Regions from separate parts of the Homo sapiens genome. Here region 2 is linked to region 1. The links come from fine-mapping of genetic effects on gene expression. Tissue or cell type: gastroesophageal junction. Region 1 holds a variant in brackets; the other region holds the start of a gene. All regions are shown on one strand. Distances are between the middles of the regions.

The links. PIP is the estimated chance that this variant, and not a neighbour inherited with it, causes the effect.
Region 2: it holds the start of VPS13A, and the variant in region 1 is fine-mapped to the expression of VPS13A in gastroesophageal junction (GTEx, PIP above 0.99). The same link has a PIP of 0.9 or more in esophagus muscle and prostate.

What each region holds. Positions count from the first base shown.
Region 1 is chr9:77,219,832-77,222,750 of GRCh38, forward strand. It overlaps VPS13A (vacuolar protein sorting 13 homolog A), which reads left to right. Exons shown (of 72, transcript NM_033305.3): 11 at 123-250; 12 at 446-552; 13 at 1,354-1,525. Among named protein-coding and RNA genes, the nearest start is that of VPS13A-AS1, 43 kb to the left of the region's middle. The variant G/A (reference allele first, on the strand shown) is at 1,659.
Region 2 is chr9:77,175,954-77,178,872 of GRCh38, forward strand. VPS13A (vacuolar protein sorting 13 homolog A) reads left to right here and starts at 1,581. Exons shown (of 72, transcript NM_033305.3): 1 at 1,581-1,851. The coding sequence starts at 1,752. VPS13A-AS1 (VPS13A antisense RNA 1) reads right to left here and starts at 1,964. Exons shown (of 2, transcript NR_026668.2): 1 at 1,674-1,964; 2 at 803-953. RefSeq lists silencers at 1,209-1,538, 1,300-1,594, 2,577-2,746 and an enhancer at 1,300-1,594.

The sequences.
Region 1 (2,919 bases):
ATCTGGGAACTGTAGAAGGGGTATAAAATAAATGGAAATCAGTGTTTTCAACTTCATCACTTTATTGCCTTGAGACTTTGGAAATATAACTCAGTTTTTTTTCCATTTTTATTATTTTTCAGTATTTCGTCCCATATCTGCTAATGCCAAACTTGTGATGAATCGCCGATCTGATTTTGACTTTTCTGCCCCCAAAATAAACTTGGAAATTGAGTTACATAACATAGCAATTGAATTTAATAAACCACAGGTGATTTTCTTTAATATAATTTTCAATTGTGAATTATTGTTTGATAAAAGCAAAACTAAGATTTTAAATGTTTCACTAAAATTCATGATGTTATATGGTAGCATTTCCCTAAAAAGTCAGTAATGTAACTTTTATCTTCAGCAATTGAACAAAAAAATGTGATACATTTAAGAGCTTTAATTTTCCATTCTTTAGTATTTCAGTATTATGGAGCTTCTTGAATCAGTTGATATGATGGCACAAAATCTGCCATATAGGAAGTTCAAACCTGATGTGCCTCTTCACCACCATGCCAGAGAATGGTAAATGCCTTGATTTTTTTTTTTTTTTAGATTTTAAAAATACAACATAAAAATAAATTTCTCGACTTCAAGAATAATCTTTAAGATATACCATTTTTAAGGTCTGATACAAACCATAATTGATTTATAGCTAGAAATATATGTAGCTGCTTTAGCTTATTGAGTTAATGAAACTGATTTAAGGGATTCTTGCTAACACAGTTTACAACTCGAGATGCTCGAATACCATAGTTTTCATTTACTATGGACGGGTCAGTATATTTAGAATTATTACAAAAACAAATCCTGGTTTGTTTTCTTGCATTGTCTCTCCCCAACCCCCACCTCAGCTTCCCTATCAGATACACTGAACCAATATTATTAAACCTGTATTTTAAAAGCTAAAAATGTTACGGAGTCTATGCAGGATAATCCCATTTTAAAACTCAAAAGTCTTGTTATTCCAGTTTTTAAGCTATTCCCTAGTTTCTAGAAGTTACAATTACTCTTTCAGTTGACTATTTCAGTTATTATTCAGATGACTAAATGTTATTTGCCAATTAATGCCTTAACAGTTCTTGTGTAGAACTATATTTAACAAAATGGAGTGATTTTGCTTATTTTCACTTAAGAAAGAGGAAAGATTAATATTGAATGGATTATTAATGCAAATGGAGTTGGGTAAAAAGGAAGTACTCAGATAATATATCATTTTCCTAATCTTTGTATTATAGTTATGTATGTTGTTAGAGTAGAAGCAATGTCAGTAATGTTTCATACTGTTGATTTGAGGGTGTTAAATGTTTTTCTTTTTTTAACTAGGTGGGCTTATGCTATACATGGCGTTCTTGAAGTAAATGTTTGCCCCAGGTTATGGATGTGGTCATGGAAGCATATTAGAAAACATAGGCAAAAAGTGAAGCAATATAAAGAACTGTATAAAAAAAAGTTAACAAGTAAGAAGCCACCTGGTGAACTTCTCGTGTCTTTGGAGGTTAGCATTTAAAATGAAATTGTTGAGTGTTTTATACTACATAGCTCCTTATTGGTCTTCAGTGACTGATACTCCCTACCTTTCATTCCAATTTTTATTGACCTTTTCATCTCTTTTACTTAGACTTTTTTGT[G/A]CTTCTGTTCTTAACTTCAGCTGAATAATACAAGATTTGTTGAAATTCTCCAGTGAGCTTTTGAAATTCGAGATTATTCTCAATCGGAAGGAATTTGGGTTCATGCAAATAGTATGATTATGTCATTTTTAACCTCAAAAGTCTAAATAGTGTTTGCTACATTGATTCCAACTTCTCTGTGTTGGTTTCAAAGCCTTTTATGTGTCACCACTACATTTTCCCTATGTTACAATCTGACCATGCACTAATTTAATGTTTCCTGTACTCTGTATATTTAATGCTCATTCTTTTAGCCACGCCTATGCTCATAAATGCTACCTGCCTTTATCTCTCTACCTACTCAATTCTACTCATCCCTGAAGTTCTACTTAAGTCTTAGTGCTTGCATGAATGTCTCTGAATTTTCTGCTTATACAGAGCCCTTTTTCTCTTAATTTTTGTGGTATCTCTAGTCTCTACCAGTAGTTTTACATTTAATTATCTATCTTGAGATATTATTTTTGTATTAATCTTGTCTTTTAGCATTATGACATATTTCAAGAGGGACTCTTTTACAAATTGATGAACTATAGCTTAGAGAGATTAAGGGGAGTTAGTCTCTTGAAGTTAATGTAAACATTCTGAATCCAGAATGAATTTCTAATTTATAGATTAGATTGACTTTTACTTTTATTTTCAATGTGGGAGACTTTCTGAAGACCTAGGGCTGTTAGGAATGCCTGGGCTTAGAGTCTTTGGGGGATGGGTTCAGGTTGTCTTAGTCTTGAATCATAACCTGAGTCCTCCAAGTCTGGATAGGAGAACCCTGAATAAGTTATTCTGAAATAATAATGGGTTGTAGTTACTTCTCTTGGGGGAAACATAGTTTGATCATGAAATTCTCAAAAGTAATTATGGGTATGTCAAGATAGCTGTGATGAAAGATTTAGCTAATCTCAGCTTATTTCAATAGCTATGACAACTATGAAAAGTGTTAAGTATTAAAAACAAGTTTTAAGTGTATCTGGGTCTACTTGAAATACAGGCATACTTCACTTTATTGTGCTTTGCAGACATTGTGTTTTTTACAAATTGAAGGTTTGTGGCAACACTGTGTCTAGCAAATCTGTCGGCACCATTTTTCCAATAGCATTTATTCCTGTCTATGTGTCACATTTTGGTAATTCCCACAATATTTGAAACTGTTTCATTATTATTATATCTGTTATGATGATCTATGATCAGTGATCTTTGCTGTTACTGTTGTAACTGTTTTGGGGTG
Region 2 (2,919 bases), 44 kb before region 1:
CAGCAGAATTTTTTTTCATTGCTTTATGCTTATACCTCTAACTTTTCAGCAACATCCCTTCCCCTTCCTCACTTCCACAAAATTTTCCTAGATCGTAGAAAACTAATATGAAAACGTTTGCAAGATACTTAAGATGGATTTTTGGAGTTCTGGAAATTCTTGTAACTTTGAATTTGCAGCGCTAGATATAACAGCGGAATTTTGCAGCTACTGTGTATCTGGCTTCTTATTAATAGTGCAATGGCAAAATGCCTCATTATGTAGAGCTCTTCCCCTTCCTAGGCATTTTAGCCTCTATTCGTTTCTCCGTGCAGGTATTCTGAAGCAGACTGTTAGCTGAATGAGAGAGAAGCAGGTGGGGTGGTAGCCAATCAGAAGGGCCAAGTTCCAGTTCTTCCACAGAACATTGGTTGTATGACCTTGCACACATCCCTAACACTTCAGCTTCATTATATTTAAGACTAGGAGGTTGGAGACCTCATAAAGGTCCTTCAAATATAAAATTATATGAAAAACATTCATAAACTCAGGTAAAAACTTACAGTTTTTGTCAGGCATTCTACTTGCAAAGGCACACCCTAAACATTTAATTTTGAAAAGTCGGTGACTATGCACAAAAAGTAGTAAAATGACACAGGAATTAATAGAAATCCATCATTATTCATTTAACGTGTAAAGAGAAAACGCTCAATGTACACTTTTTCGGTCCTGCAGATGATTAATTACAGTTCTCTAAACCTCACATTTAGCATCTCTGTGACCTCAGGCCTTTGGGATTACTTCTAAGTAAGACCAAACAGGTCGAAAGATCTGTAATTGTAATTTATTTTAGGTCAGTGGTTCGGTGGAGGCATAGGGGTCAAGGGTCCAGCACTCCCAGTATTTCTTGGAGGGTGTTCAGCAGTTTCCAGACCGGCTGACTCCAACTCTTATCTGCAGGGAAGCGTGTTACTCTTTGGAATGAAAGACAGCTCCGTATAAATGACTTGACCAAAAATGGGTGCTCATCTCAGATGCAGGGCAGGGACTATGTAACTCCATCCTCGACTCGCAGCAGGAAGTTAACTCCTCCTGAGAGCCAGGCGGTCGGAGGACCAGGCGGGGAGGTTACAGGCACCAAGACACCCAGGCTGGCTGGACCCTCCCACCCTGTAATGATGAGGGGAGATGCTCCCTGGGACAGCCCCCTTGAAGCTTCTGGCGACGGGGCTGGGATCCGCCCACCCTTACTCAGGGGCGAGCCCTGTCATACGCGTGGAAGCGGCCACCACCTTCTAGGGGGAGGGGCGTTCCCGTCGGGCGTAACCGCCCCGCCCTGGGGGGCCGCTGGGGACGCTGATCTGCAGGAGGGGGCGGGGTCGGAAAAAATCCGGTAGCTCCAGACCGGTGTCCCGTTGCCAGGCGATGGGGAGGAGGCGGGGCCGACAGGAAAGAGGAGCCGGGCTCGGCGCGAAAAGGGCACCCTCCAGAGCCGCGGCCGCGCAGCCGCCTTTCCTCCCTCTCAGGGCTGCGCGCCCAGGTCTGCGCCGCGCTCCGCCTCCAGCCGCGCGCAGACTTGCGCACGCGTCGTGAGAGCGACCGCCTCCGTCTCTCGCTGGGCTCGCTAGGGCTGCGCGTTGGGCCAGCGGGGGCGCCGCAGCTGAAGCCGCCCCGGAGCCGGTGAACCGAATTACCTCGAGGGAGGGGCGTGGGGAAGGCGGCGGGAGGAGGAGCGCACGGGCCGGCTGCCGTGCCCACCACGGCTGAGGAACATGGTTTTCGAGTCGGTGGTCGTGGACGTGTTGAACCGGTTCTTGGGGGACTATGTGGTGGACTTGGACACGTCCCAGCTCTCTCTGGGCATCTGGAAAGGTAAGGAGGCCGCCGCCGCCGCTCCCCGGCCTCTCGTGCTTCCCGGCCGTCTCGCTGCCCGAGCGGCGTCCTGCGTTCTCGGGGCTTCGAGCACCTTGCTCGCCGGGTGCAGCCACCTGCCGCCGCCCGCCTGTGGGTCAAGTTACGTAAAGCCGGGCGGCAGTTCCCTGGCCTCCGCCCTCGAGTTGTTTATATTTTGGGGGAAAGGAGAGGGTCATGAGTGCGGGATGAAAAGGTCTATATTTTCCGAGCGGAGCGGACTTGCCGTGGGCTCCGTGGGTCTGGCGTTCAAGTCCCGGCGAGGGGCCGTTCTCTACCCCTGGCCCCGCACGGTCCGGCTTTAGCCGCGCGGGGCGAGGAGGCGAGACGACGCCTTCCTGGGCTGGGTCCCATCCCTGTCCTTTGCCCCCCTGGGTTTATGACGAAGGCCCCAGAAATCCCCCGCGTGTTGCATGCTGCCTCGCACGTGAAGGCAGGGCGCTGTGACCGGGGACGCCCGCTTCCTTGCTTCCCCAGCCTCAATTCCTGGCTTCACCCGTGGTGCTTTCTGCTCTCCCCCTTCCGGCCCTAGGACCCGGACGCCGGCTCTCTCTCGCCTGGGTTCGGCGGATAACAAAAAGGAAACTCAAGTGCAAAGTAACTCAAACAGTTGCTTGTGTGGTTGCAGTTAACAGCCTGACCTAGGAATGTGTAACATTTTCAAGACTTTAGGATATGTGGGTCAGAGTGAATTGCCGAATTTTAAAGAAAAACCAGGGCGTGCGGTGCAACGTCTCAGACCTGCAAAAGACCGGGCTGAACAGGGCCCTACGCTGCCTAGGTGGTGAAGGACCGAGCTTTCCTTGTGTCCGTTTAGTGTGGTATTCTGCCTTAGTGAGAGCCTCATTTTTAGTGTTTCCATCTGTTTTTGCATTATGCGCTTGTTTATTTTAAACACCCGCTAGAAATTAGACTCCTTTGTGAAATGAATTTCCCAGGCCAAAGTGAGGGTTAATTTTGTGTGTGAAGTGTGTGTGTTTAAATATATATTTAAAGTAATTTATTCTTGTCTGTGCACACACTTCCAGT